Homo sapiens: one gene and its partners. The protein of the gene in region 3 interacts with the protein of the main gene of each other region in a pairwise test. Each region holds a gene or a part of one and is shown on either strand. Other genes may lie near its edges. The genes, in order: STX19, TFEC, NAPB and KCNN3.

The links.
Region 1: the proteins of NAPB (region 3) and STX19 interact in binary tests that used the Homo sapiens proteins (3 or more experiments, as listed by UniProt).
Region 2: the proteins of NAPB (region 3) and TFEC interact in binary tests that used the Homo sapiens proteins (3 or more experiments, as listed by UniProt).
Region 4: the proteins of NAPB (region 3) and KCNN3 interact in binary tests that used the Homo sapiens proteins (3 or more experiments, as listed by UniProt).

What each region holds. Positions count from the first base shown.
Region 1 is NC_000003.12:94,018,061-94,026,112, forward strand, and holds part of STX19 (syntaxin-19), read right to left. Parts: intron 439-8,052; exon of another isoform or gene 379-438; intron 1-378. UniProt on the Homo sapiens protein: Plays a role in endosomal trafficking of the epidermal growth factor receptor (EGFR).
Region 2 is NC_000007.14:116,027,022-116,035,544, forward strand, and holds the start of TFEC (transcription factor EC), read right to left. Parts: upstream 3,743-8,523; 5' UTR 3,612-3,742; intron 1-3,611. UniProt on the Homo sapiens protein: Transcriptional regulator that acts as a repressor or an activator. Acts as a transcriptional repressor on minimal promoter containing element F (that includes an E-box sequence). Binds to element F in an E-box sequence-specific manner.
Region 3 is NC_000020.11:23,410,654-23,418,705, forward strand, and holds part of NAPB (beta-soluble NSF attachment protein), read right to left. Parts: intron 1-8,052. UniProt on the Homo sapiens protein: Required for vesicular transport between the endoplasmic reticulum and the Golgi apparatus.
Region 4 is NC_000001.11:154,867,282-154,875,345, forward strand, and holds the start of KCNN3 (small conductance calcium-activated potassium channel protein 3), read right to left. Parts: upstream 3,001-8,064; 5' UTR 2,684-3,000; coding exon 1,751-2,683; intron 790-1,750; exon of another isoform or gene 668-789; intron 1-667. UniProt on the Homo sapiens protein: Small conductance calcium-activated potassium channel that mediates the voltage-independent transmembrane transfer of potassium across the cell membrane through a constitutive interaction with calmodulin which binds the intracellular calcium allowing its opening.

The DNA of each region.
Region 1 (8,052 bases), on a different chromosome or scaffold from region 3:
ATTTAAAAAAATTTTAAACTGATACAGGGGTGTCCCTATGTTGTCCAGGCCGGTCTTGAACTCCTGGGCTCAAGCCATCTGTTCGCCTTGTCCTCCCAGAGTGCTAAGATTACAGGCATAAGCCACCATGCCTGGCCCTGATTTATATTTTTAAAAGATGTTGTTGCTTTCTATATAGAGAATAGTTTCCTGGGGAGGGGGTGGGAGTAGTTCACAGAAGAGACTTTAATGATAGAGATGGAGTAAATGGGAACCATCAGGATATATTTTTGAAACTAGAAGCAATAGGACTTGATGATTTTAACCCATCAGCACTTAACACAATCATTTCTTGAGACACTTTGAAGAAAAGTATTTCTCCTGTTTTTTTTCTCTTACCTTTTTGGCTCTTCCTTTATCACTATTTTCTTTTTCCTGGCTACTCCTTATCTCCCCCACCTGTAAATATTGGAAGATTTTAGACTGAGTCTCATTTTTATCCATCATCATTTTTTAGTCTCATGGCATTAAATGCTGTTTGTAAGCTGATGACCCAAATTTGTATCTCCAGTTTAGGTTGCTCTTAAAAAACTGCCTACCTGACAGCTGCATTTGAATGCCTCTATCCAAAATGAGCTCATAATCTTCCTGTGAACCCGTAAACTGCCCCATCTCTCTTCTGGCAACTCTATTTTTCCAGTTGCTCAGACCAGAGACTCAGAAGTCTTTTTTTGTTTGTTTTTTGAGACCGAGTCTCACTCTGTCCCCTAGGCCGGAGTGCAGTGGTGTGGTCTCGGCTCACTGCAACCTCCGCCGTCCGGGTTCAAGCAATTCTCCTGCCTCAGCCTCCCGAGTGGCTGGGACTACAGGCATGTGCCACCACGCCCAGCTAATTTTTGTATTTTTATTAACGACAGGGTTTCACCATGTTGGCCAGGCTGGTCGCAAACTCCTGATCTCAGGCGATCCGCCCTCTTCGGCCTCCCAAAGTGCTGGGATTACAGCTGTGAGCCACCGCGCCTGGCTGGAAGTCATTCTTGACTTTTTTTTTCTACATTTCATATGCAAGCACAGCAAATCTTGTCAACATCTCTTTCAAAATGTATTTGGATCTAGCCACCTCTTACCATCTCCCTGGTTCAAGTCCCTGTTATTTTTGTTAATTTTTTATTTTTGAGACAGAGTCTCCCTCTGTTGCCTAGGCTGGAGTGCAGTGGCACAATCTTGGCTCACTGCACCCTCCATCTCCCAGGTTCAATCGATTCTTCTGCCTCAGCCTCCCGAGTAGCTGGGACTACAGGCACATGCCACCATGCCTGGCTAATTTTTGTATTTTCAGTAGAGATAGGGTTTCACCATATTGGTCAGGTTGGTCTTGAACTCTTGACCTCATGATCCGCCCATCTTGGCTTCCCAAAGTGCTGGGATTACAGGCATGAGCCACCGCAACTGGTCAAGTCCCTGTTATTTTTCATCTTGATTGTTAACGATAGTCTCCTAAGTGTTCTCCTTGTTTCCTTTTTGCACCAACTACCCCCCATCCTGCCCCCACCACAAAACCTCTGGTCTTTTCTTAACACAGAATTCAGAGTTAAAATGTAGGTCAGACCATGTCATTCCTGTGCCTAAAATCCTCCTTTGGCATTATCTCTTAGAGGAAAAACTAGAGCCTACAAAGCTCCACAATGACTTCACCCCTTCTGTTACCCCTCCGACCTCACCTCCTACAACTCTCCCTTTCTCTGCTTCAGTCTCACTGTCCTTGCTGTTCTCACACAAATCTGGCACCATCTGGCTTTAGGGCCTTGGCACTTGCCTTCTCTTCTATTTGAAGTGTTCTTTCCCATGTAGTATGTGACGTTTTTCCCCAACCCAGTCCTTACTGAAATGTCACTCCTGAGTTAGGATGTTCTTTGTCACCCTATTTTGAACTATACCTTCTTTCAACTCTCTGACCCTTCCCAGCTTTATTTTTCTTAGCATTTTTCACTATTTAACATACCATGTATTTTACTTATTTATATTAACTTAATTGTCTACTTTCTCCTCCCAGTATTAACTCCATGAGATCAAGGGTTTTTATTCATTCTGGTACCTCATAGAGTTAATACTTAGAGGAGAAAGTAGAGGGTCTTTATTCTTTCCCAGCACCTTGATGAGTCTTATATTTACTTGAGTTCTTATGTTGAGATCTTGATATCTTAGATTTACTTGAGCTCTTAATATGTGCCAGGCACTAAGTGTGTTTTATGTTCTTATAAGAACAAGTATTGTCATGATCTCTATTCTATAGATAATGAAATTACGATCTCAGCTTTAGTAATTGAACCATGTTGTCAGCTAGTGGTAGAGTTGAGATTCAGATTCTGGCAGTATAGTTTGAAGGACTCAACTCTTTATACGACAGTATAGCATACTAGAGCATAGTAACTTCACTATGACATAGCATAGCTTTACTATGCTATGAAGGTTTTTCAGTGGTGTTAGATCATTTAGGGTGAGTTCTGAAAAGAGGCAATTAGGTCAGTTAAGTGGTTGGGAAAAGAGCCAGATCACAAGGGATAAGACCTTGAAATCTGTTTGTGTCAGGAAAAGGTGTTTTATAGATATTAAAAGTTTATTCGGAAACATTTGCTGTATTACTTTATTGCCACATGACTATATTGCTGAGCATTTTAAGTACCGGTGGGAAACATTTAAGAGCAAGTTTTTGTTGCTGAAATGCACTTAAAGCATTCTACTATTTATTTCACCTATTTTAAATACTTAATTCAAATAGCCGGTAATCTTTTGTTTTTGCCACTGATTTGCTATAGTAAAGGTAAAAAAGTTCAGTCAGTACAATTTATGTAAATAGGGGACTTCTAAGCTGGAAGGAGATTCCATACGCCTCTTCCTCTGCATATTTTTATTGTCTATATTCTACTTTACTGGCAAGGAACAGTTTCTCTACCTTCAGAGTAGAGCTAACCAAAGCTAGTGTTTCTATAAGATCCAAGGAAAAAAATGAGCTATGAATGATACTAAACCTGGAACAATTATGAAAGGAAGATTAGTCAGGAGGAATATTAGACGATACTATAGAAAGAATTGCCAGTTTTAGGTGTTAAAAAGTTGTTTTTGTCTTTCGTGTTTAATATTATTATATATATATATATATAATTTTTTTTTTGAGACAGGGTCTCGCTCTGTTACCCAGGCTGGAGTGCAGTGTCATGATCTCAGCTCACTGCAATCTCCACCTCCTGGGTTCGAAGCGATTCTCCTGCGTCAGCCTCCCGAGTTCCTGAGACTACAGGTGCCCATCACCATGCCCAGATAATTTTTGTATTTCTGGTAGAGACAAGGTTTCACCATGTTGGCCAGGCTCATCTTGAACTCCTGACCTCAAGTGATCTGCCCGCCTCAGCCTCCCAAAGTGCTGGGATTACAGGTACAAACCACCATGCCTGGCCAAATATTGTATAAAATATTTGATGCTTATCCAGGTATAGATACTTAAAGACATGTAAAACTATTGGGAAGTAATGTGGAAACTTTTTACCATGTGGCAACTTTGTGAAAGCAGAATTATCACCCATGTTTTATTATATACATCTGATAAGAACTAGTCTTCTTTTCAGTATAGAGAAAATTTGATGTTAAAGTAGGTTGGCTTAGTAATTTATCTTGTATAGCTTCCTAGTGTTCATTTTGTGGTTTAGTGGTATTTATGACTCCCTAATCTATAAGCTCTTTCTAGTATTACTATATTGATGCTGAAAATAAATTATTCCCCAAAGTGTTGAAGATACCATGTCGCATTTAATATAGCCATAAGCTTTTTAAATAAGCTTTTTAAAAATGTTATTTTTTCCCTCAAATTAATAATGCATGTACACAGGTTAACAAGTCAAGTCATGTCAAGGCTTCTAAAGATATATATCTGACCCTTACCTGCCGTACCACATCCCCTTTCCAATTCTCCATTCCTTAAAGACAGTCATAAAGGCAGTCATTTTCAGCTCCTTAGCTATATGTTGCATCTAAACTCCTGTTTCTAGGTAATTTGCATGTGTAGGTATTTTTGCTTCTTCAGTTTTATTTTATTTTATTTTTTTTGAGACAGAGTTTCGCTGTTGTCACCCAGGCTGGAGTGCAATGGTGTGATCTCAGTTCACTGCAACCTCCTCCTCCCTGGTTCAAGTGATTTCTCCTTGCCTCAGCCTCCTGAGTAGCTGGAATTACAGGCGCCTGCCACCACGCACAGCTAATTTTTGTATTTTTAATAGAGATGGGGTTTTACCATGTTGGCCAGGCTGGTCTTGAACTCCTAACCTCAAGTGATCCACCCGCCTCAGCCTCCCAAAGTGCTGGGATTACAGGTGTGAGCCACCGCACCCGGCTGCTTTTTTGGTTTTAGTTATTTTATTGAATTTCTTCTATGGAAGATGTGGATTTAATCTTCTCTCACACCCCCATTCTTCCCTCACCTTCCCCCTTTTAATACAGTTATATCACAAATTTTGGTTAATCAATATTTTGTGTTTACATTATTGTGACTACCCAAATATTATTTATATGTGAGTCACCTAAGGTACTGTAGCTGTATTTCCTTTCTCAAATAATTTTTTAAATTATTTCTAAGTTTTTTCAATGGATAGAGATAGAAAATGAATATATTTAAGAAAACTTCTTATTGACATATTTATATATACAGAAAGTCCCCCAGAACATAAATGTATATTATGGTGATTTTTCACAAAGTAAATACATCCATGTAACTACCACATAGATCAAGAAACATATAACATTTAATTTTAAGAAAATATTAATTACCAAAGTTTTTCACCTGCTTAATTTTGTACATACATCACTAATTCATTCTAAAACTGAAGTGAATTGAACATATCCTCTTGACATATTTAAATATAGAATATATATATTTTTATTTCATTTTATTCATCTTTTGAGGCTCCTTTCCTGGAAACTCTAATGTAACCTGATTGTGTTAGAATTTTCTTCCTCTTTTATATTCTCTATTTTTGATTTCCAATTCCTCACCTTTCTTGGTTTATCTCCTTGATTTGGGAGTGTACCATAGCTCCTTTTCAAAACATAAATGCAATGATAATTTTCATTACTGAAAATATTTTTATTCTGTCCTATACTTGAATACTATATTTTCTGTGGATATAAGTTTCAGTTGGAAATTATATTCCCTCAAAATTTTGAAAGTTTTGTTACTACATCTTCTAGTTTTGTTACCTCTGAATATTCTGCCCTGTGTTTTCTGATATTTTGTAGATCTGTTTTTATATTTCCTTTCATGAAATTCTTGACCTTTTTTTCATATTCCTGGTGTTCTGAAATTTCACAACAATGTGATCTGGGGTAGGTCTTGATGCATTTATTTGGTAAACATATAGTTGGTCTTTTCAACCTAGAAACTCATGTATTTACGGTCTTGCTTTTTTTTTAAATAATTTCTTTAAGAACTTTATTTTCTCCATTTTCTTTGTATTATTTTCATGGCCTTTCAGACATTAAGAAAATTAAAGAAACAGTCCAGTCCAAGAAAAGCAACGTCCAAATAAGGGGAATTTTAAAGTGACTTGCCTAAGGCCACACAACTAAAAGGTGGCAGATCCTACGTTTAGACATATCTACTTGATTGCAAATCTGTTCTTTTTCCCCTATTGTCTATTGAGTAGAAATTGGTTATCCTAGTGAAATATACACAAATAATGTTTATCTATATCAAATACTGTATTATGTTACTAATATACATACTATATCTATTTAAAAGAAAAAATTTAGCAGGAGATAATATAGCATATAGGATCTAAAATAATGTTGTTGTTTGAAGCTTTATTAGGATCTTTAATATAATCAGACCAAATTGATCACTTTACACTATAAAAGAAGAAAAATAATTTGGATCTCACAGACTGATGTTTACAGAAAGTCTAAGAAATATTGCATTTTATATTTGGTACTATATGGAGATTGATATTCTTATATTTTCTTCTGCTTCAACTCATAGTCATCTAACCAAATTTCTGTTTCCTTCTCTTGTACTAGCTTGTCACTATGAATTGTTTTTTAAAAATTAATTAATTAATCAATTAATAGAGAAAGGATCTCGCTCTTTTGTCCAGGCTGGTCTTGAACTCCTAGCCTCAAGGGATCCTTCCACCTTGACTATGAATTCTTAAAAATACAGCATATATAGCTGAAGTGCTAGTTGCCACATTATTATTTTTTAAACTGGGTTGCACCCGTGTAAATATAGGGAAAAAGAAAGAGTAACAATGTTAGAAGCTCAGAGGCGAGAGAAAGAGAAAGTGGCATCAAACAAAACAGATTTTGATTTTCTATCCATAAAAATTAAGTCCTATATTTATACAATGGTTCAGTAGCTTTTAACAATCTTTAATTTTCACATTCCTCAAGAACTACAACATCTTGAACTTTCTCTTTGGTTGCATGGTTTGGAACAAATCCTGAAACAACTCCCTCTAATGTTTTTATGACTGGAAAGATCTTTGTCCTTTTTTGGGCGTGTTGTTTTGTTTTATTTTTGAGATAGGATCTCACTCTATCACCCAGGCTAGAGTATAGTGGCTCAATTGCGGCTCACTGCAGCCTCTACCTCCCAGGCTCAAGTGATCCTTCTCCCTCAGCCTCCCGAGTAGCTGGGACTACAGTTGCATGCCACTGTGCTTGGCTGATTTTTTAAAATTTTTTGTAAAGATGAGGTCTTGCTGTGTTGCTCAGGCTGATCTCTAACTCCTGGGCTCAAGCAATCTTCCCACCTCCGCCTCCCAAAGTGCTGGGATTATAGGCATGAGCTAGTGCACCCAGCCTCTTTTTTAAAAAAATTAGAAATAAAGTAATCAAAAGCCTTTTTCTAAAGCATCATAGTTTAAAAATTTTTAAGAAATAGACTATTTCAAATTGCTATTGGAGCACAGTGTACACAGGCCTCTGGGAAGGTGAATTTTCCTGTGAAGTGCCTTTGAGAAGGTGCATTTTACTGCCACTGATTTTGGAAAGCAGGATATTTGAGTCTGACCTCTATAAAGGTTGTTTTTTTCCTGGATTTTTATCCATGTAATATCATTCCCTGAACATGCACCACACTTTTATATTTGAATAAAAGGTACTTTAAGGAGCCCTTTAAAATATATTAATATGTCCTTTTTATTAATCTTAATGAATTTACAAGCAAAAAACAAAATATCCTTTTTTTAATATCTGTATACATTATTGATATTAAAGGCAAAACATGGAAATAGAATCAGGTTTCCTTTCAGTGTTATACATCATGGCAATGCGTATTATGTAAACGATGTTTAAAGTGAGCTATAAAGGTTATACTGTGTTTGTCTTGGTTTATGGATCCTATGCCTGTATTTCTTTTGAACATTTAGAGAATATTTATGTGAAAGATCCTTTACATTATTAGGTTATTTCTAGTTTCTTAGGAGTAAATTCCTATGTTTGCTGTGGCCACGGACTGGTGACCACTCTGTTAAATGTGGGCAAGTGTATTTAGTGAAATTCGTCAGTAGCCTAGCTTCATTGGGGAGTTATACAAGAATGCTCTGAGTGTCCTGATCAATTATGGATACATTGAGGCTATTTTTTTGATTGTCACTACCAACGCCCCATGGAGTTTGCCCCTTGTAGCCCAGGTAGTATTATGTAGGCCTAATTTTTCTCTAGTGATTTTTATAGCCTAAGTGGATATCTCACTTCCTGCTATAATCCTGGGCAAGTCAACAGAGTTATTCCTGTCTTTGTATACAGATTATGTTGTATTATTCCTAGTTAACTGTTTCATCTAGGAAACTCAGTTTTAGTTCCCTATAATGCAACAAACTCTAAACCTCAGCTTTAAGGTAAAGTATTTGCCCAGTGTAATTAGCTTTAATTACTACTCTTCACTTTGGCTTTAAGTATGTTTCCTCATCATTTCTGGCACCTGAAAACTTCTCTTTTTTTTTTTTTTTTGAGACGGAGTCTCTCTCTGTCGCCCAGGCTGGAGTGCAGTGGCACCATCTCGGCTCACTGCAAGCTCCGCCTTCC
Region 2 (8,523 bases), on a different chromosome or scaffold from region 3:
GACAAACTTTCTATTGCAGACCTCAGATAGTTCAGTAGGTTCAAATCCATTTGAGTCTACACAGGGTCAAAGGGAACAGAGTGTTAACATATTAGCCCCTGAGAAGTTCTCTGCAGACATTGGCAGGGATAAATACCTGTCTATAGACAGATTGTCAATAATACGGTAGGTACTGGTCTAGATTTTGGGAGCGTGAGGAAAGATGCCGCATAGAATGAGTGCTGCAAGTGGAAAACAAGATATAGCCAAATATTTGATTGAACAGATAGGAAGTCTAGGCTTGGCAGGGTGTGGTTGCTCATGCCTGTAATCCCAGCATTTTGAGAGGCTGAGGCAACCACTTGAGTCCAGGGGTTTGAGACCAGCCTGGGCAACATGGCGAGACCCCCCATCTCTACAAAAAAATACAAAAAAATAAAAAGAAATTAGCTGGATATTATGGTGCATGCCTGTAGTACCAGCTACTCTGGGGGGTTGAGGCGGGAGGCTCTTTTGAGCCCGGGAGGTCGAGGCTGCAGTGGGTCCTGATCAAGCCACTACACTGAAGCCTGGGTGACAGAGTGAGACCCTGTCTCAAAAAAATTTTTTAAATGTGCAGGCTCACATTCTTACTTGGGTGGAAATACATCTAAGGAAGCTGAGCATTGGAAACATGTTTGTGCAAGAAAGAATAAAGAAGGGAATAAAGGGAGGTATAAAAGAAGTCTCTGGCTCAGTGGCAAACTGAGAAAGCATGTTTCAAGAAGAGAGACAATTTGAAAATACTCTTCCATGGTAACTCTTAGGAATGAACATTAGGAGGCATGAGAATCCTTATTAAAACTCCACCTCTACGTCCTAGACTCTCCTTTCAATTCCTTTTTTTAGATCGATTTTCAAATTCTCACCTATTCTTTCAAACCTGAAAAGAGAAAAGAGAAACAGAAACCTAACGGGTCTTTAAGATCATTAGGCTCAACTTCCCTCTATTTCCTGAGAGCAACTGAAAAACTGGGAACAAGGGCTTTCTCGCCTTGACCAATTCATTCTTAAACCTGGTCACCTGAGGAGATTCTACATCTCTATCTTACTATTTCACTTTTTCAATTATACGAATTCTCCCAATTCTCCTAACATTTAACATAAACTACCTCTAATATTCTCCTGTTCTTCTTTATTTATTGGTGTGTAAATGGCCAAGACTTTTTATGCTCCAATAAATACAATTTAATGGAATCACAAAACCATCTATCATCAGCTAAGCTCTCATAGGCAAAGTATTGTCCACCAAATTTTTATAAATCTCCAAACACCCACAACACAATTCTACAGATTTCTCTAATTAGCTGGCATTCACAATTCTATATAATAAGGAATATTTGCGTAAATTAGTTTCTTGCTGTTTTTCTTTTCCTACAAGACTACTGTTAACCTCTCTCTTCGTAGGTTATGACTTTGGGGATGATTGTCATTCCTACTGCTCTATGCCTCCCAGACTCTTCTTAGTAAACACCCCCAGTAAAATCTGTGCAGGAACCATGCTTTGCACTATGCATGTGTTTTATTTTGTTGACAAATAGTTCAAAATAGCAACCTATTTGTAAACACCACCTTTCTGGATCTGCTATCACTCCATATCATAATCCAGTATTTTTTACTGTAAGAGCTTTCATCTCCATGAAGAATCTGGAATGTCTAATTGACATCTGATAGCTTTATTTGTAAAACGATTTATAAAAGATTAAGTGATTGCTTTTCCACTATTATGGAAAATATCAACAGCCATAATGATTCCATTTGAGTTATATTTCACTAGTTTATCTAAAACCATTGTGTAAGAATATTTTGTTTCTTTCAGTTTCTTCTTTCCTTATTTCTCCTTTCTGACTATTCAAACCACTGTTTTCAAAACTATTTTTACTTCCACTATATAAGTTAGTAGTATTTCTGAAAATTTCACTATGCTACAAATTTGTACCTTATTTAAATGTCTTGTAATTATTTTGGGCTATCTAGAACTTACAACAAACCTTATGCCGCAGTCGTTAAAATTAAACTGACTTTTAAGAAACATTTTTCAGCTTGTTTCATTTTTGACATGAGCTCCAAGTTTCAGTTCAACAAAATGTACTACATTGAACTATTCTACTGTTTTGGAATAAAATTGAAAACTTAAAAAAAAAGTAATAATAACCCAAACCAAGGAAATAGACATGAAAATTATATGTATTCCATTTGTTTTAGAGCTAAAAAAAAAAGTTTAAAAAAACTTCTTAAAAGGAGATCTTAAAGTTTAGCCTACTTAAAGTAGCTTCCATCCAAAAGTAAAATATTTAACATAAATTTAAAAGATACTTGCAAGTGCACTGCTACACTCAGATTCATCTAAAATAGAAGTGAAGCAGAATTGTCCGAATAATGCTGATAATAAACTGCGTACCATTTCACTTTGCTGTGCTGACACACTTTCTGAATACGAAAGAATCATGAAGGTTATTTTACACTCTTATAGTTAAATGAAGTTTCTTATAAACTATCCAAAATGAATTTGAAATTACCTCAGGTTTCTCCTTCCCTTAAAATGCATATTCCCAGTGAAATATTCTAAGACAATATTGAAAGTATGGAGTTATAACTTATATAAATATATATGAAATTATATCTATTGTAATTTATATAAGCAAATGTATATATACAGCATATATATATGTATGTACATGTGTATAAATATCTTCATATGTATCTTAATCTTAAAGTTTCTACTACAACTCTTTTGATTATTACAATTGAAAACTATTACTTTAAAAAAGTAATTGCTGGGAGGCCAAGGCAGGCAGATCATGAGGTCAGGAGTTCAAGACAAGCCTGGCCAACATGGTGAAACTGCGTCTCTACTAAAGATACAAAAAAAAAAAATTAGCCAGGTGTGGTGGCGCATGCCTGTAATCCCAGCTACTTGGAAGGCTGAGGCAGGAGAATCACTTCAACCCGGGAGGCAGACGTTGCAGTGAGCAGAGATCACGCCATTGCACTCCAGCCTGGGTGACAGGGTGAGACTCCATCTCAAAAAAAGGTTGTTGCATTGGGATACTTGACATCTTCTACACAAGCTATTTAGATCCACATCTACATAAAAATAGGAATTAATTTTTAGTCCTGGAATAAGAATATATGCTAATATACTATCTGGTACTATTTTGCTATAAATAGAGCTCATATTTTCTTACCTTTAAAGCCAATAAAATAGATATTGCTCAAATGTAAACAAAAATTAATATTTACTCATAAAATAACATATATAAGAGGCAACAAAATGTTAAATCATGTTCCAATTTAGTAAATATCTGAAAATATTAAACTTGAAAAATAAATAACTTTGGTTACCATGAACTAAAACAGTGATTTCCACATCTTGGTTGAAATAAGACATTAATAGAGTTTCAGACATATTTTCCCCAAATAATAGCAAATCACAACTTGACTACTCAGATATCCTGATACCTAGTTATCATAAAAGATGAAATTATAATTATAAGCAAGCCACACATATCAAAATAAAACAAGTATTGATTAGTTTGTCTTCCTAGTTTGTTTAAAGTACAGAAAATTAACCTGCCGGTTTAGTTACCTACCAGCAATGAGTGGATTTTATCAGTGTTGTCATCTCTACAAACAGCACCAAATTATAATCCCTCTTCCCATAACATATGCACCATGCCAGAAGGGACAACCAAAGTAAACGATCTAGCCGTGAGTAATGAATACTTTGGGCTGGTTGGAATCCAGTTAGTTGAGGAAAGAGAAAAGAGAAGTGGCTCATTAGGGCATTTCCTGAACCCTGGTTGGAATTTCAGTTAAGGAAGAAGAAATGACACAGCAGTTTCAAGTTAAGACGACTTCCTTTCTTTATCTGAAATATGCCACTAATTTGAGAAAGAGCACTCCTAGAAAACTACTCCACAATACTGTGGCCACAGTAAAAGCTCTTGTTGGTCCCATTGTGGCTCCATAATTAACAATTCTTACCAGAATATACACAAGCAGTACATGGTTGTTATCATAATGGACTGAGATCCTACATTTATTGCAACATGTTATGTTTCACAATGAACATTTCTTCAACAAATTGACCTGCATCATTTTTTTTTCAATTTTAGGAATTGCACATTTCTTTAGAGCATTAATAGATTTTGAGTTTTTAAGGCCATTGCATTTTCCATATTTTCTATAATTACATTTTTCTTACATATGATTTTACTCCTAAAGTGACCCCAGGATAATTTTTATCTTGTCCAAGAATATTTTATCTTCCCATGTAGATTAAAAATACACAGTTCAGCTTATGAGATTTCTTTGTCTTATAATTATTATTTACATCCCAATTTCATTTGTATTTTTAAGGGACATGAATATAGGATACTCATGCCTTTACCAATGTGATAAAAGAGGTCTCATTTCATGTGTTAGGTATCTCAGGAACTTAAAATGGAAAGGTACAACTTTGTTCCCACCCTGTAATTCACACTGTGAAAATCTGAATTCATTCTTGTAACAGTTACATGACTTTCTTGTCTTACCTATATTTTAAAAAATATATGCAAAGCAAGGCATTTATGCAAGCTACTGAAGTTTAATGTGAAGGTTACATTCAGATTTCTCTTGCCTTTGTGATCTAAAAATTGTGCAATTAAATTGACATTTGTGTTTGTCAAGAAGTGGAGATTATATGAAAATATTTCAGCACTATATCTTCTGTAAGAACTTCAAAGCTATTAAGTAAAAAAATTGTTCTGTCACTATCAATAGCACATTTTTGAGTCACCTTACCTTTTCTGGTTGTTTTATCATACATCTAAATCTCCTAAGGTGAATGGAAATAGTAAATAATTAAGTGTAAAATCAATTTATTTAGGTTAGTATTAGAAATAAACAACATTGATATTAGAAACATTGTGAGAAAAGAAAATATTTGGGATTTTAACTCATTAGAAAATACTTTAGATTGAATTAGAGTTTAATACATTTGTATGATACAACATGTTTAACATATTTAATGTATTTGTATGAAATACATTTGCGAGCTTCAGAAGGTAAATTTTAAAGCTGTATTACTATGTGGGCTTCAAAAGTTGGAAACATGCACATAGATACATATTCACACCTGAAAGAATAAGCATCTATTTGTTAATATCAGTTATTTCTTAATGGTGGCATAATCGGGTAGTTACTTTTTTTACATTTTTATCTATTGCTTCTATATTTTATATAAAGTGTGGCAATTCCTCTATCTAAAACCAGAAATACCATTCAACCTGGCAATCCCATTACTAGGTATATGCCCAAAGGAATATAAATCAATCTATTATAAAGACACATGCACACGTATGTTCACTGCAGCACTATTCACGGAGGAAAGACATGGAATCAACCTAAATGCCCATCAATGGTAGACTGGATAAAGAAAATGTGGTACATATACATCACAGAATACTATACAGTCATAAAAAAGAATGAGATCATGTCCTTTGCAGGAACATGGATGGAGCTGGAGGCCATTATCCTTAGGAAATTAATGCAGGAACAGAAAACCAAATATTGCATCTTCTCTCTTATAAGTGGGAGCTAAATGATGAGAACACAAGGACACATAGAGGGGAACAACACACACTGGGGCCTATCAGAGGGTGGAAGGCTGGAGGAGTGAGAGGATCAGGAAAAATAATTAATGGGCACTAGGCTTAATATCTGGGTGACAAAATAATCTGTACAGCAAACCCCCATGACACAAGTTTACCTATGTAACAAACCTGCACATGTATCACTGAACTTAAAATAATAGTTAAAAATTTTTAAAAATCATGCATGTCGTTTCTAATAAAATATAGTTTTCATTTCAAAAATAGTTTATAAACCAAACTTTTAGTATAGTATACTACTTGCCACAAAATAATTTTACCACAAATTATCTGCTCCCTTATGACAAGAATGAGGGAGATCTTATAAATAACTGATATAATTTAAATCTTACCTTCTGTCTTTACCTGATTGATGTTTACAGACTCCCTGCAAGATGCATTTCAGTTAATTAATCACGTGACAAAGAAAAGGGCAAGACATCTTCTCATGATTCATCAAAAAAAAAAAAAATCTTTGTTTCTGAGGATGTATCCTCACTCCTCGCATTTAAATGGTCAAGTTCTGGCCATTCTATGCCTGAAATTCTTCTCACAAAGAAGAAATGTGTCAAAGTGCTTGGCTGCAGGAATTTGGTTAAGAGTCAGACTGATTTGGTCTCAACTCCCAGCTCTACCTCTTTCTAGCTATGGCACCTTGGTTAAAATACTTCACTTCTCTTTGCCTCAGTCTCCTCAACTGTAAAACAGAGAAACTAATAGTACCTAGAGCAGGGCTAGTATGAGGATTAAATAAATAATAGAAGTAAATTGTTTAAATAATGCCAGGCATGTAATAAATGCCATGTGAGTTTTACCCATTTTCTTCCTTTTTTCAGTTGCCTCTGTCAATTTCTTTATTCCTGCCATTCTCCATCCTCCATGTCTATCCACTCCCTGTACCAGTACCCAAATACTCCCATTTGTTATCATAGATGAATTATATGTCATCTTATGCAGAGAATAGCTCTCTCCATTTATACCAGATCCCATCCCTCCCACTACCCAAGACCACCACCTAGCAATGCCCTCCTCTCACCTGTAATCTACAGTGCCAAACATTGACTCAACCAGATCATTCCTTTTAGAATACAAGCAAGTGTTCTTTCTCCCACCTAAAGGAAAACAAATAATCTTCTCTGAACCCTACTTCTCCCACCAGATGTTACTCCATTTCTTTGTGCCCTTTTTGAAAAACTCAAAAGAGCTATCAATACTCACTGTCTTCAATTCCTCTTTTCCCATTCTTTCTTAAGCTCCTTCCAGTAAGGCTTTGTGCTCCACCAGAGCACCATAACTGACCTTGTCAGGACTAGCAATGACCTCTGTCTTGCCAATCAAATGGTCAGTTCTCACTTCCAACTTACTTTCCCTATCAGCAGTGAATGCGTGATCATTCTCTTTGCCTTTAATGCCCTTTTTATGGGTTTTCAGGACACTACAGACTCAAATTTTCACCTATATCACTGAGTATTTCTTCTCAGTCTCCTTTGCTGTTTCCTCTCTTCTCTATAGTGAAATGTCCTAAGTCTCAGCCTGTTCTTTCCCCTACCCTAGCTATATTCATTACCTTGGCTATATCATGTACTTTCATGACTTTATATCATCTATATGCTAATGACTCTCATGGTCATACTTCCAGGCCTGATATCTCTCTTGAATTCCATACTCATATATCCAACAACCTACTCTATGTTTGCATTTTCCTGTGTTACAGACAACCAAAATCTTCTCTTCCAACCATGCACCACTTGCAGCCTTCCCCAACTAGATTAACACCATCTTCATCCCTCCAGCTCACTCCTCTCTTTCTCTATACCCTTCAACGTGTCCATCAGTAACTCCTGTGAGCTCACCTTCAAACCCACCTGGAATTTATCTGCCTCATCCAACTTCCATTGCTATTATCTGAGTCAAAGCTAACCTCATCTCTCACCTGGATTGCCGCAAAGACCTTACACCTGCTCTCCCTCCTTCTATCTGTTACACACACACTAACACGCACAGGCATGCATACACACACACACACACACACACACACAGCAACCAGAGTGGTTCTCTTAAAACTCAAAGCTGATCATGTAGCTTTTCTATTCAAAACTTTGTCAAAGCATTCCTCATACTCAGAGGAAGAACTTAAGTCATTCCAATTCCTTAAAATGGTGTCTAAGGTCCTAGGCCTACACACCTCCTTTAACTCTTTGTGGAATATCAACTTCTGAATGAAGTTTTTCCTGACTTGTCTGAAATTCCACCATTCTCTTGTCTCCCCCATCTTCCCCCACTGAAACTGTTTATTCTCCTTACCCTACTCTGCTTGTCCTTTTTTCCATAGACCCCATGACCTACCAGGTTTTCTGTTTAATTTCAATCATTCATTGGAAAGACAGCTTCACGAAGACCAGGATCCCCATCTCCTTGCTGATGGACATATCCTAAGCACTAATCACTAAATGATTAAATGTGTGATTTTTCTAAATTTTATTCCCTTTATTTATAATCATAAAAAAATTCCCTACTGCCTAAATTTTGACTCCAAATTCTCTAGGATCACTCATAAATGTCTTCTCAACTAAATCTGAGTCTGAATCTCAAGCTTTACCATAATACATTCTCACTTTCTTTAGGTTACAATGTCCCCCTGCAGGACGCTCCTCTCTTCAAAGTCCAGATCATACGTGACCTCCTGTCTGTACTTTCCTTGAAAGATACAGAATTAAGGGCTCTTGTGTGTATGTGTATGAACTGAGGACACTTTACACATATTTCTTTTATAAGCATTAATGTTAACATTTTTATTCTCTTCAAATGTTGCAAAGTCAATATAATATCCACCAAAATTATAGTTTTATTCCATTGGGTACATTTGTTA
Region 3 (8,052 bases):
AACCTGCATATGTACCCCCTGACTCTAAAATAAAAGTTGTAAAAAAGGAACAAATATTAAAATAAAAATGAGCCATACCAAAAAAGCCCCAAAACAAAAAAGAAACAAGAATTAAAATACGTTCCCTAAAACAATCACAAGGCACAGGAAAACAATTCCATATGACTGAAATATTATTAAACAGATATGAAAGTACATCATAAGCTAGAAATTTAAAAACTCATCATGGAAATACACAAAAAAATAAGATGATGAACTCTTGTTTCAAATTCTAGAAGGATAGAAATAAAAAGACAAAATGATCTCAGAAATAAAATCTCTGTTATAGCATACCTAAGGGGAAAGCAGATTCTACTGACAATAAGGAAAACTATGAAAACAGCCAAGAGAACAAAAATGAAGAGAAAAGGATCTAAGTAAAAGTAATACAGGATGGGCAAAGAGCCAATATCCATGTAATGAGAGTCCCTAAAGAGGGGAAGAAAAAACCCATTTTCACAATCTGAGAAAATTTTCTGGAAACAAAAGGCATGAATCGAAATACTGAACAGGCCTACATGTACTTGGAAAACTGACCCAGAATAGTCTACTGTGAAACATATCCTAGTAAGATGACTAGATTTTATAAATGAAGAACATTTCTGGGCTTCCACATAAAAACTCAAAGTTACTTATAAAACTAAGAAAATCAGGCTAAGACTTCAACAGCAATATACGGAGCAAAACAACAGTGGAACAATGCTTTACCAGAAACTCAAGGGGGAAAAAAGTGTGAGCCAAGGATTATACAACCAGGCCATCCAGCATGCAACCCCCAGTGTAAGCCAGGACCCAAGGGATAACTAAGAGATGACTAGGAAACATAGCTGAAATGACTGGTGGTGTCACTGCATATGTTGTATTGTAGATCTAAGACAAAATGTAAGGACAAGGGTAGAAAAATAATAGGGAAACACTTCTATGTCTGACAAAGTACAAACAGCTTAAAAAAAAAGGGATATTAGAGAACAAGAGATGTAGAACGTGCTCACTGAGAAGCACATAGGTAACAGGAGTTTTCTGGAGTGAACAAAATAATAGGCGCCTAAGTAAGGAAAAGGAGCTAAGGATATTTAAAAACATTTATAGCATAAAGGTAACCAGTAGAACAAAATTACAAACCTTCCTAAATAAAAAAAGAGACATGAAGACAAATAGCAATGAAAATATAATATACAGTAAATATAGTAGTATGACAGTTAAGAACCAATCATATACTCGTCATTTTCAGATCTGCTCAAAAAACAAAACCCAACTTTGTGCTCAGTACAAGAAACACAACTAAAATACCTATTCCGAAAGGCTTAAAATAAAGAGATGGTCAAAAGTATACCAAACAAATCAAGCAGCTCTCATTAGAACTGTCATAACAGCAAATAACCCTGACATCTCCCAAAGGCTTCTCTCAGTCACTTGACTTGTTTACTGCAGACTGGCTGTGACTGCTGCCTCTTTCTCCAAGTGTCATCATTCTCTACTCTGGAATGTAGCACTTATCCGGTATATATACTCTTCTTAATTTCTTACAGAAGGGTAAAAGCCATGGCAGAAGTGCCTTCCACTCATACTTCATCAGTCAAAGTCAGTCACATGGCCACAACTGGCAGCAGAGGGCACAAGGTAACAGACAGCATGTATGATCCTCTTACATAATACAGTCCTAAGGAATGCAAACACAAGCAGTAAGAAAACAGAGATTGCTACCCTGCAATGAAACAAAGTAGAATTTGGGCTCAAAGGCTTTAAATGAAATAAAGAAGTTCACTTCATAATGCTAAAAATATAATTCATAATAATATTAGTTGTGAAAATCTATGTACCAAAAACACAGTAGCCCCCTTTATAAAGCAGAAATTGCAAACGTTAAAAAAGATAGAAATACACTTATAAGAAAGCAGATATTAATATGCCCCCCAAAACAGATCAAGTGAACAGAAAATACAGACATGAAAGACAGAGACAATATAATCAATAACTAGACAAGAGGGATCTCTATCAAAATTTGATAAGAAAATATCCACCTTCTAAAGTATACATGGGAGATTACAATCCCAGCACTTTGGGAGGCCAAGGCAATTGGATCGTTTGAGGTCAGGAGTTTGAGACCAGCCTGGCCAACACGGTGAAACCGTGTCTCTACTAAATATACAAAAATTAGCCAGGTGTGGTGGCGTGTGCCTGTATTCCTAGCTACTGGGGAGGCTGAGGCAGGAGAATCGCTTGAACCTGGGAGGTGGAGGTTGCAGTGAGCCGCACCACTGTACTCCAGCCTGGGCAACAGCGTGAGACTCTGTCTCCAAAAAAATAAAGTGTACATGGGTGCTGGGTGCAGGTGGCTCATGCCTATGATCCCAGCACTCTTTGGGAGGCCAAAGCAGGAGGATTGCTTAGGCCAGGAGTTCGAGACCATCCTGGGAAACACAGCAAGATTCCGTGTCGAAAAAAAAATTTTAAGTAAAGTGTACCTGGACCATTCATGAACACCAACAATATATTAAGTGGCAACGAAAATCTCAGTAAGTTCTCTGATCATAATGAAAAAAAAAAAGTTTAAGTAATAATATACAAAGAAAGGCCATTCTTTCTACCTGGAATAAAACCCTTACAATAAAAGCCTCTTGCAACAAAGGGGAAACAAACTAAGATAAAAACATTATGTAACAGGATCTATAAAATACAACTGAAGCAGTTTTAAGAAAAAAATGTATAGCCATGAATATTTTAATCCATACAAATAAAGCAATGAAAACAGTGAATAAACACCTCCCTAGAAAAATGAACCAGAGGGAAAAACAAAAGAAGCCAAAGAAAGCAATAAAGATAAAAGTATAAGTCAGTAAGACAGAAAACACAAAACCAGTAGAACAAATCAATCAAAATATTGGTTGTTTAGAGAAAAAGAATCAAGGAAAAAAGGGGAAAAACACAAACACAAAAATAAAGTGACAGAAGAAAATTACTAAAACAGAACATTTTTAAAAGTCAGAAAAGACTACTATGCACAATGCAAATACATTTTTTAAAACTTAGATAAAATGAATTATTTCCTAGGAAAACACAATTTACCAAAATTGACCTCAGTAGAGATAGAAAATTTAAACATTACAAACTCCAGAGACAAAAACAAGAAAGTTATCAAAGAAATACCCATCAAAAGCCCCAATGGTTTCACTGTGGTATATTCTTAAATCTTCAAAGACCAGAGTCCAAAAAAAAAAAAAGAAAAACATCCACATTATTTTTAGGAGGCACCTGTAACAGCAATACTTCAAGCTGATAAAGTAAAGCTATATACAAATGAATTGTAGATAAAACAATCCTAAATCATGTATGTAAAAACAGAATCTAGGCCAGGCACAGTGGCTCATGCCTGTAATCCCAGCCCTGTGGGAGACCAACCAGGCAGATCATTTGAGCCCAGGAGTTTGAAACCAGCCTAGCCAATATGGTGAAACCCCATATCTAATAAAAATACAAAAATTAGCTGGGCATGGTGGCCTGTGCCTGTAATCCCAGCTGCTGAGGAGGCTGAGGTGGGAGGATCACTTAAGCCTGGGAGGCGGAGGTTGCAGTGAGTAATGAGCACATCACTGCACTCCAGCCTGGTCAACAAAGTGAGACCCTGTCGCAAAAAAATAAACAAATAAATAAAAATAAAAATGGAATCTACATTTAAAAATATATTATAATCCTGAGAGGTTTACTCCAGGAGTGCGAGGACAGTACAATACGAGGCCTCATATTTACTAATTAACATATAATAACTCTTAAGGAGAAAAATGTTTATCTCCGCAGATATTCAAAAAGGCCTTCAAAATACAACACTAATCCCTAATGAATACACGGACTAAAACTGGAATTGACAGACAAGTCCTCACCATGAAAAAATATACCTTAATTCAAGGAAGTATTGACTTATTAGATTTTGTTATTACTTATAAGTTCCACTTAAATACAGAAATAGTTAACATTCTGAAACTCTACTTCCAAGTTTCCTTACTGTGAACTTTATTAGTCACTGAAAATTCTTTGAAGGTACAAAAGCTTTACTGATTTTATAACCAATCAGATAAACACAATGTGAAAATCTAAGAAGAGTATATGAAGTCTGTAACTAGGGTGATTCTGTGTCCTCATTGCATAGATATGCTTGACTTGTACCCATTTTATTAGTATCTCAAAAATATCACAATTTGGACAATATATTCTCTTTGACTCCATAACTCACAAAAATAGAAAAATATATTAAAAAAATTTTAAGTATAATATTTTGATTAGCTTAATTATTCAGCATTAATTCATACATGAATTAAGATTTAAATATGCTGTTTATATATAAAAGGTAATAGAGATTGAGACATAACTAAGTAAAATGAGGAGGTAAAGGGGAAAATGTAAGACCATGTAAGTTATAATAAATTTTTCATCATTTTTAGCAAAATCAACAGATACTGTCTGAAAATCAAGATATCAGGAAGTAGAAGTGCTCTAAAATTATTTAGAAATATGGTGGTAACCATCAGAAAAACTAATGAGAAAGTTAAAAATGGTTGCTTCTTGGGAGTGAGATTACGTAAAAAGAAGACTCAGAGAACTTTACTTTTCAACTGAAAACTCTCTGCGCTGGGCACGGTGGCTCATGCCTGTAATTCCAGCACTTTGGGAGGCCGAGGTGGACGGATCATGAGGTCAGAAGTTCAAGACCAGCCTGGCCAACATGGTGAAACCCTGTCTCTACTAAAAATACAAAAATTAGCTGGGTGTGGTGGCACCCATCTGTAATCCAAGCTACTCAGGAGACTGAGGCAGCAGAATCACTTGAACCCAGGAGGCAGAGGTTGCAGTGAGCCAAGATCATGCCACTGCACTCCAGCCTGGGCAACAGAGCAAGACTCCATTTCAAAAAAAAAGAAAACTCTCTGTACTCCTTGTACTTTTCTACCGTGTACAGCTACAATGTTCATAATAAGCAAATATTTAAATAAAATGCCTAGTACAGTGGCTAACACCTGTAATCGCAGCACTTTGGGAGGCTGAGGTCAGCAGAGCAGATCGCTTGAGTCCCGGAGTTGGAGACAAGCCTGGGCAACATAGCAAGACCCTGTCTCTACAAAAAATACAAAATTAGTCAGGCATGGTAGTGCATGCCTGTAGTCCTAGCTACTTGGGAGGCTGAGGTGGGAGGATCTCTTGAGCTCAGGAGGTCAAGGTTGAAGTGAGCAGATATCTCGCCACTGCCTTCCAGCCTAGGCAACAGAGTGAGAGCTCGTCTCAAAAAAATAAATACATAAATAAAACGGAAGAAAGCGACTTAAACTCTCCTTTACTTGGTATAGCTTTGCTCTTGAAAACTAGGTAAGAATAAAAGAAAAAACATCAGCATTTGTATTAGCATTAATACATTCATTCTCTCCACCAATATTTACCACGTGCCTAACGCATGCCTCAGGCTGGGTGAGGTGTTAGCCACAGCAACAAAACAGGCAGACTTCCAAGGAGCCACATATGATTACTGGCCCTCCCTCTCTCCAGAGTAACTGCACCTCACAGAGCTCACAAGAATGAAAGAATATGTGGAGAAAACTGCAAAAATGCAACAAGAAAAAGGCCAGTCTGGTAACAGTTTATCATTTGATACCAAGCTGTAACAACCTAAAATCAGAAAACCAAACAATTATAATAAAGTTATATAGCTCTGTGCAACTGAATAAGCATTCTGACCTCATTCAATCCTTAACAATCGTGAAAAACAGATTCTGTCTCTCTGCCCATCTGAAAACTAAAAAAAACAAGTTCTGAGTATGATTTACTTGACTATAGTCACCAAAATAGTAAATGAGAGAACTTGAGCCTCTACCTGGTCTCCCCATGAATAATAATATAATTATATTTCTTACGTATATTATATAATTTATAAAAATAATTGTTCAATTTATAATCGATTTCTTTTGAGAAAGATACACAAATATACGTATATATTTCTTATACTGTATCACCTGTCTCTGTCAGTAAACCTGAGCCTAATAATTTTTTTAAAAGTTCAATCTGCATTTGAACAAGAATTGTAACTGAGGAAAACCTAAATGCTTCACCTATGTTATCACATGGCCCCACCATATTTTGGCCAAACTTAAAAGCAATCTTTGTTGAAATAAACACAAGTGAAGAATACTGATAATTTACAGTCTACAATGCTTAAGAAATATTCACAATTTTCACAAACAACCAACAAATTATAGATTCATAATTATTTCAAGATAACCCAATGGGGCCTTTCATTAAATTTACATTGACATTGCCAAATTTGTAGCTCTTGTGTAAACTCAGACTAAACACTGAAAGGCAAAGGAAGACAGCATTAACCATAAAGAACATCTTTCCACTGGCATTCTTTTTTTTTTTTTTTTTTGAGACGGAGTCTCGCTCGGGGGCCCAGGCTGGAGTGCAGTGGCACAATCTCAGCTCACTACAACCTCCACCTCCAAGGTTCAAGTGATTCTCCTGCCTCAGCCTACCAAGTAGCTGGTATTACAGGCGCCCGCCACCACGCCAGGCTAATTTTTGTATTTTTAGTAGAGACGGGGTTTCATCATGTTGGCTAGGCTGGTCTCAAACTCCTGACCTCAAGTGATCCACCCGCCTCGGCCTCCCAGAGTGCTGGGATTACAGGCGTGAGCCACTGCACCTGGCCTCCACTGTCAGTCTTAAGCACTTTCTTCTATGTGCATTGTGCAGGTTATTCCCAACCGGGTCTCATAGCAACAAGATGGAGGGGATAGTATTATAAGAGGCTTTTCCAATTCAAAACTATCTTAATGTCAGACTCAGGCCGATTTAAAATCATACCAGTAGTTCATTAACATTATAAACTGGAATTTGAAATTAACTACAAAATTCCATAGCTCATCCCTGGCAACAAACTAAAGGACAAGACAACTCCTTTGGAAGTAGTTTTACTAAACGTACTATACTACAAACTTGAGAAAAAGTTTTAATTCCACAACTACAAAAGCACATTACTGCTTAACGGGCAATTAAGCAGAAACACAAACCACCACAACAGTGGTTTCCTGCAATGTTTGCATCCCTTGTCAGCTCTTTTCCTGGGGAGGAAGGTGGGGATGGGAAAGGAATATTGATACCTTACCTATCAAGCAGATAAGGCAGAGGATTTGTGCCTTACACAGAGAAGAAATATTTGACTGACATGTTCTCATAAATACATATGCATATTTTCATCTAATTTTACTGAAAGCAAGAAACAAAAGCTATAGAATACTACTAAGAATACAGTATTGCCACAAAACCACTGTGAGTGGTAAACACTAGAGAACTCATGACAGGCTTTAATCTGCAGATAGAGCATTCAGAATGTCTGTGATGTGAAATATCTGCAATATGCCAAGCAGCTTTTAATGACTGCCACAACCTGAAAACAGATGGCTTATCCTCTTTAAAGCACCAGCTAGTCAGCTCTTAAATATATGAGCTCTGATGATATTCAAGTCAGTATGTGTGTTTTATTAATTTTGTATTACATTAATTCTGGAGTCTGACATAGAGATGGATTACTCTGCGTTTTAAATAAAGGATTACATGCAGACCTTTAGGAATGAAAATGGTGACATTCTATAGCTAAGAAGGCAGGGGCAGGGTGGAATAACATGTATTCCAGTCTAGAAAGGTGATGATACATGCCATCTATAAGGTAGGATTCTAAACATCTAAAATTGATACAGAATCTTAATTGTCCTACTGACACAGGAACACTACGTCTGTTTTCTGGCTTCAGTAATTATACAATATTACTAAACTCCTAAAATTCTAAGTACTCTTCTTCCTGCAAGCTTTCCTGGAGCAAGTATTACTGGAAATAACAGTCTTCAAAGTATAAATCACACTTGCATGGTACATTAATGGTTAAAGCTCTTTCAGATATTTTATTTCATTAAAAGATCAATGAGGCTGGGCGTGCTGGCTCACGTCTGTAATCCCAGCACTTTGGGAGGCCAA
Region 4 (8,064 bases), on a different chromosome or scaffold from region 3:
GAGGCTCATTACAGGGAATGACTAAGTGAGCTGCGCTTCCAAGGGAAACCCCACTCGCTTCTGCTCGCTGAGACGCTCATCCTTGAGCTATTTTGACTAAGGCGGCTTCCAGGTGCTGCCCTCCGCTGGGGCAGCCCACTGAGAGAGCAGCCGGGTTGCTGGAGGACCCTCTGCCTGGAAGTCTTGGTCCTGGCTATTCAGGTCGTCTGACAGGTCTGCCCCACCCGTTTCCAGGGCGGGAAAGTCTGCCCATCACCGATTAAAGTGAGATGCTGGGAATGGGGGAAATCCGATCAGCACCTCCTAGGTTTTTGCGGCTGGATTTCAATAAGGAATGTGACAGTCTCGCAGCAGCTGTGCCCTGCCTGAAACAAGCTCTATTTGAAACCTCCAACAGCTGAACCCCTCCCAGCTACCCGATGGCCAGCCCGCCCAGCCACCCCCCCACCAAGCCACCCCCTGCCCCAAATGACAAATAAATAGAAAAACCCAAGCAACAAGCAGGCGCATGCATACGTACAAACATTACGCACATACACACACACACACCAACAAATTGGGGGTGGGGGTATCGTGGAGCCACTTGTCCACCGATTCCCAGGTCTCCAAGCCTTCCAGCCCACAGCAGGAGAGCTCCCCGGCAAGCAGAGCATCGGCAGAAACCCACCTTCCTCCATCTCCACTCCCTCTGGGAGGGAAACCCCCTCCTCCGTCTTGGGGCTGGACTGAGAGGCTGGAGCAGTGGGGCCAGCTCCCCGCTAAAGCCAGTGCCTGCTGTTCTCCATCCGGGCGCGCACTCACACACACACTCATCTTTATTTATCCCAAGGAGGAGTTGAGGTGGGAGGGGAGAACTGGGGCTGAGCTGGGGCGCGGGCTTGTGGGGACCGCCTGGGAAGCCCTGTCATCCCGTCCCAAGGAGAGGTGCTCCCCCAGCTGATTCCAAGGCGGCGCCCAGCTGCTCTGCCCAGGTAACACCTGTAGCCATTTTTATCAGGAGATGTTTACGAAGCAGCAGCAGGTTTATTCTGAGTCCTCTCTCCTGAGGGAAAGGACCACTGATTTCCTCCACCTATATTTTTACCCCATGCCCTCAGGAGACCCAGGTCATGGATGGTTTTCTATTTTGCCCGAGACTCTCTGAGAAGAGGAGGGAAACAGAAACTTGGGAAGAGATGGAGAAGACAGGGAGAGAAGGGACTTGGGCAATGGTACGGAATCCCCACCCCCCACCCAGACATTTATTTCTTTTTTATCCTCAGGAAAATGGAGTGGAGCAGGGAGGGGAGGAAAGAAGGGGAAGTCGCAGGAACTGGCAAACACATGAAGGCGGAGTGTAATTAATTGGTGCGTTAAGCTGCTGGGTTATGCTTTAGTACGAGTGAGCCAGGAGGAAAAGCGATTTCTCAGAAGGGATTATTGAATCCTCCCTAACAGAGAGTCTGCAAATTAGACACAGTGTGTGGGGATGTCCCCTACCCCCCAGAGGAAGCTAGGAATGAATTCTCCCGGGATCAAGAAGGAAAACCACGGGAAGTTAGAGTGTTGAATATAACTGAGCAAGCGCCTCTCACCACCACCACCACCTCTCTCTCCCAGTCTCCCTCCCAATCTCTCAATCTCTCTCTCTCTCTCTCTCTCTCTCTCTCTCTCTCAATCTCTCTCTCTCACAATCCCCCTCTCTCAATCCCTCTCTTGCTACCTACATATTCCTTTTGTTCAAGGTATAAAGAGAAACCACAGCCCCTACCTTTGAGTACAAACCCCAAGAGAGCTCGGTCTCTATCACCATAACAACAATTCCAAACATCCCAAAAATCAGAGCATAGTCACTCAGTCGCTTTCTCTTTTCAAACAGGGCCCTCCTGTGTCCCAGCTTATAGCCAATGTTTTGGTTTTTCCGCTTGTTGGCTTTGGGGAAGGTGGTGCTGCTGGCGGTGGTGCCGGCATGCTGGTGGTTGTGGGTGGCATTAGGGTGATGGAGCAGGGTCTGGTGGGCATGGTTGTCCTCCCGGGAGGAGATGACGATCTCCGGGGGGTTGCTAGGGCTGAAAAGCTGGAGGGGTTGGCCCTCAGTCTCGGCCTCGATGAGGTTCCTCCGGGAGGCGCTGAGGCGGCTGAGGGGCTTCATGACCCCACCGCTATACTTGCAGGAGCTCATGGCGATCTCCGTGAAGGGGTTGCTGTCCCGCCGGTGCACCAGGGGGCTGGCCTGTCGGTGCCGGCTGCCTCCGCCAGGCCCACTTGTAGCTGTGGAACTTGGAGAGTGGCCAAGCAAGTGGTCATTGAGATTGAGCTGGCTGCCTTGCCTGGAGGAAGGGTGGAGGATGGCGGTGGAGTTGGACGAAGGGGGGGCCCTGAAAGCGGTGGGAGAGGAGTGCAGCAGGCCAGGGTGGACGGGCTGGCTCTGGAGTTGGGCGAGCTGAGACAGGGGATGCGGTGGCTGCTGCTGCTGCTGCTGCTGCTGCTGCTGCTGCTGCTGCTGAAGCTGCGGAGGCTGAGGCTGCAGCGAGGGTCCCAGGGGCTGCTGGGGGGCTGCTGGTGGCGCTGGCGGTGGTGGCTGCTGCTGCTGTTGCTGCTGCTGCTGCTGCTGCTGCTCATCCCCAGAGGATGGACAGGGGCACTTGGGGTCTTCATCCAAGTCCCCCACCCCCGAGTCATGGAAGTGCCCAGAAGTGTCCATCTTGGGGCCTGGCTGTATTCCCTGCAGCACAAGCCCCCACCCCAAAGCCACCCTCGCTCCAAAGATGTCCTCAAAGAAAGCCAGGCATCCAATCTCCCCCACCAGTATCTTGGCTCCAGTCCTCTCTTTGGCTTGCTTCGGTTCTCTGGGGCTGCCTGGAGTCCAGACGCTGCCACTCAAGAATGCATTGTATTGGGCAGGGAGGGAGAGCAGGAGGGGAGCTTGGAGAAAGAAGAGGGGGTGAAAGAACTCTCTCAGGAGGTGGTCCTCTAGGAGCGTGTGAGGCCAGGCTCAGCTTCACTCCTCGCTGGCTCAATAGCTTCGCTCGCCTCCTCCTGCCACTGTTACATTGTAAGCCAAGCCCACTTATTAGCAGCTGGTCTCATTGGCTTGGCTTAACTCTCCAACCTCCTCCTAGCTCCGCCCCCCGCATAGGCTCCTCCCCAGAGGAGGGGCCTGGCGTCCTGGGCTCCGGCCCCAGTGGCGGCGCAGCGAGGACTGGGAACTGTAGTTTTTGCTCCCCCACCCCGGAGCTGAGCCGCTGTCCTCTTTCCTCTGACAGGTATGGCCACAACCCTTAAGCCCACGGCGATAAGGGATGTTCGCTCACGCTGGGCGATGGGGAGGAGGGACAGAGGGCCTCCGAAGGAGGGGAGGTGTGCACCCTGATGAGGGGGCAGACGGAGGGGAAGGCAAACATTTATTAACCACCAGGGTTTACGATAGGTTGTTTCACATATATTATCCGGATACAGTCTCCAAACACCCAAGGAGGTGGGCAGTATGGTCTCATTTACAAAGCCTGATGCTTAGAGGTGTTGAGTAACAACGTCAAGGTCACAGAAGCAGGGGGGATCCACACCTTCTAACACCCGGTGGATAAACTCACCTACCATTGACTGAGTGCCTACGCCTCGTGTTCAGGGTCCTCTCTGTTATTTCCAACCCTCACATCAACCCCACAAAAATGATGTCATCACTCTCCTTTTACAGATGAAAATTGGAAGAAGAAGAAGAAGAAGGAGAAGGAGAAGAAGGAGAGAAAGGAAAGTGGAAAAAACACTCAAACGCTCAAACATAGATATGTAACTTGTCAGATGTCATCCCGCTTGTAATTAAAGATGCTGGGATTTGAACTTAGTCAGTCTGACCCCACAGATCAGATACTTTCTCCCAGGATGCATTTCCACTATGATATTCAGTACAAAGTGGTTGTTCAATAAATATTGTTCAAATGTTAGTTGGGGAAAACAAAAGAGAAGCTGCTGAGGAAGAACTGGCCTCTCCAAAGCAGGGTGTGTGAAGTGGACCATGGCTCCAGCCCCTTCCCTAACAGCTGGGTGTGTAGTCACAGGGGGATCTGGCAGGAAGACTGAAGATTCCCCCATGGTCATTCCCTGCCTGATTTGCCCCATGGGGCTCTGAGAGTCAGAACTAGGAACAGCTGCTGGCTTCCCAGGTTCAGAACCATCATCATCAAGTATTTATTAAGCCCCCACTGTGTGCAGAGGGGGTTCCAAAGGATGGGACCAGAGCTGAATTCATTTTCATTTCTAACCACAGCAGCCTTAGGAATCAGAAAGGAAGTCACCATGAGGGAATTCCCCAGAACACCTGGGGTTTTAAAAGGCAGGCCTCTTCCTCTCTGGCTCTTGATTCCCCATCACCCTTTGGCCTCTGTCCAGCTCCCTCCCTCGATGGGAAGAGGAAAGGGTAGGAGATCCATGCACACATACACAGACACACATCCAGAAAACATGTAAGCAGGTGGACATATGTGCACATGTGTACATGGTTGTGTGCACACACTAGCCCATGCATGCACACATGCACACATATACACATAGGAAGCTCCTAAAACAGCATTCCTGACTGGTAAGCAGCAAGTGTCCAGATCAGGGAGGGACAGAGCCCCCCCAAAATGAGCCCAGAGTCCCCTCTGTATATCAGTTCTCACCTCTCCAATCCCCCATTAACCCTGATGATTGAGAGCTAAATATTACTTGTAATACAAGCCACGACCCCAGATACGTGACAATTACTCTTGCACAATAATCTTGATTCTGGCCAGGCATGGTGGCTCATGCCTATAATCCCAGCACTTTGGGAGCCCAAGGCAGGAGGGTTGATTGAAGTCAGGAGTTCGAGACCAGCCTGGACAACATAGCAAGACCCAGACTCTACAAAATTTTTTAAATTAGCTGGACATGGTGGCGAGTGCCTGTAGTCCAGCTACCCAGGAGGCTGAGGGAGGAGGACTGCTTGAGCCCAAGAGTTTGAGGCTGCAGTGAGCTGTGATAGCGCCACTGCACTTCAACCTGGGCGACAGAGTGTTACCCTGTCTCTAAATATATATATATATAAAATAATAATCTTGATATCAATGACATAATCATTTCCCCTACCCCTGCCAACACACACACACACACACACACACACACACACACACACACACACACACACACTAGAAGTCACAGTACCAGGCCTCAGATGCAAGCCTGGGGTCTCATGTGTTTTCCCATGACCAAGCCCTCTAGAACCCACCCCCAACCCCTTCAGCATCCTCTGCCTTCCCTGCCCTTCCCTTCTGTATTCTTGATTTCCCTCCCTCTCCTCCATCCGCAGACAGAGCCACCTGCTTGGTTCAAGGCTCCAGATCGCATACTTAGGTTTAATGATCCTCTAATAAATTATCATGAATATGTTGTTAGTAGCAAAAATGTGCTGTTCGTGTTGGTTTTTTAGTGTTGGATACAGTTTTCTGGGCTGTGAAAAATCAATTTTGGAGAACAGGCTCCAGGCCTGGGTATTCCTATGCTCACTCTACCCCCATGAGCTGCCTTCTGCCTCAGCTAACCTTTCTGGCCAGCCTCTTGCCTCCAGTTCTTCTGGCTGTGCCAATGGGATCCAAATGGGGCCTATCAGAGCACGTCCTGCCATCATGGATAAGGATGAAAGATAGCTTGGGTAGAGCCCTAACTATGCCAGCACCAAAGATCAGTGGTTATCTGGAAATGGGCTGGAACTTGACAGCTGATGCCACGGAGCCAGCTCATGCCCCTTGTTACAGCTATCCTGTCATGAACAGGAGGAGGAGGACAATGTCATGTTTAGAGCTTGGGCTCAAGTGTCAGACTGCCCAGGCTGGAACCGTTCTCTGCTGCAGGGATGGCTGTGTGACCACAGGCAAGATGACCTTCTGATCATCCATACACATCTCTTCCTAACTCCACAGTGATGTCACATTAGCAGCTTGAAATCAGCCATGATCAGAGTATTTACACCACAGAAATCGGCTAACACTGTAAATTAGAGCTTATGTTTTCCTGGAAGCCGCTTGCTAAATCTTTCCTGGCTGTTCAACATTTATCAGCATATTACTGCCTCCTATATCATTACATACAGGCTGTGCGCTCCACCCTCTGCCTTCCTTCTCACCAGCACAAGCTTTGCCACTCGCCCACTTTGTGACCAGTTGCTTATGTTCTCAGGCCTTCAATTTCCTTAGTCCAATGAGAGCACCGGCCAAGTACTTTGTAACTGTCAAGCACCGACAGGTTAGTGAATCAGCTGGGAGCTCTCAACCACAGGGCCTGATCATGTCAGGTTTTCCACGTTGCCCTCCAGATGCACCGCACTCAGGCGTCTTCCCGCTGTTGCTGCCTGTCCAAAGCCCCACTGTTGAAAAGCCCCCAATGCTTCCCTTGGCCCCCAGCCACAACCATGTCTTCACAGCAGCCTGTGAGTTGAGGCCATCACCCATTTTATAGATGAAAAAACTGAGGCATTAAAAAGATTTTAAAACTTGCCCAGAGTTACTAATTAGTAACTAGCCATAAAGCTGGAATCAAACCCAGGCCTGTCCAACCTTTTGACAAACCCTCGCCATATGTCCTGAAACCCAAATTTAAAGGATTCATTCTTACTGGTGTTTATTAAACATTACCATGTGACTCACACACCCAACCCTCAGGAACTTAAAGTCTCACTGTAGAGACAAGTTATACTTACATGGGGTGACAAAAAACAGCAATGCAGATCCCAAAGTGTGGGCGAGACAGTAGAGTTCATTGAAGGCAGAGGGTTGTCAAGGGTGGCTTCCTGGAGGTGGTGGGACTTAAGCCACACCTTAAGGAATGGGGAGCAACTCCTTATGCTGCCCTAAGATGACAGGCTGACAAATTAGGCCTCTTTAGTCTGCAAACGGGGGTGTGGAGGAGCTTCTTACCTCAGAGAGACAGGAAGAGCAGACAAGGAAAGTAGGGGTGGCCTTTGGCCATACTGGCTCCACATCAAGTGTACTGGCACTCGGTTTCTGCCCTCCTTTCCAGGCTCATTCCTCACCACCTTCCTCCTTAAGCCCCAGCATCACCGACCTATTGTAGCTCTCCCGTAAGTCATGCTATTTCACATCTCCATGCCCTCTGCCTGGCATGCCCTTCCCCCAGATTTCCATCTAACACATTTCTCTTTGCCTTTCAAGACATGGCTCAAAGGTCTTCTTTCTGAGAAGCTTCCCCTGAACTCCCCAAACCCAAATCAGGAGCTCCTTCTGTATTTTCAGTGCCCTGTGCTAACAGGGCCTCTACGGAGCAACACAGCTGTTATCTCCATATGTGTCCTTTGCCCATAGACCATGACCTCCTTGAGGGCAGGGATGATGTCTTCTTCACAGCTGTACTGCAGCTCTTCCGAAGAGCCGCTTACAATAGATGCTTAGTAAAGATTAATCGAACTGACTAAACTTGAAACCTGGATGAGGTCATTTGAAGGCAAGTAAGGGAAAGTCACAGTACTTTTCACAACAAATCATAAACACAATTTCCTCATCCGTAAAATAGTGAGATAAAAAAGATGATTTCTAAGATCACTCAGCTTTAAAATTCCATAATCTATTGTCTGTAGACCTTGTTATCCCCAAAAGGTAGAACTAACTGAAAATAGGTTTAAGAAAAGTAGTGGTTCATGGTTTATATGGCTGTCTTTCCCACAGGCTGTGACCTGCATAAAAGGGCTCTAAATTTTTTCAGTATCCCCAACACTGATCACGGTGCCTGGCTATGAATTACTCATTAAAGATTTATTGGTCGGACCTGGTGGCTCACGCCTGTAATCCCAGCACTTTGGGAGGCCGATCACAAGGTCAAGAGTTCAAGACCAGCCTGGCCAACATGGTGAAACCCCGTCTCTACTAAAAAAAAACATACAAAAATTAGCTGGGCGTGGTGGCGAGCGCCTGTAATCCCAGCTACTCAGGAGGCTGAGGCAGGAGAATTGCTTGAACCCAGGAGGCGGAGGTTGCAATGAGCCAAGACCATACCACTGCACTCCAGCCTAGGCAACAGAGCAAGACTCCATCACAAAAAAAAAAAAAGATTTAT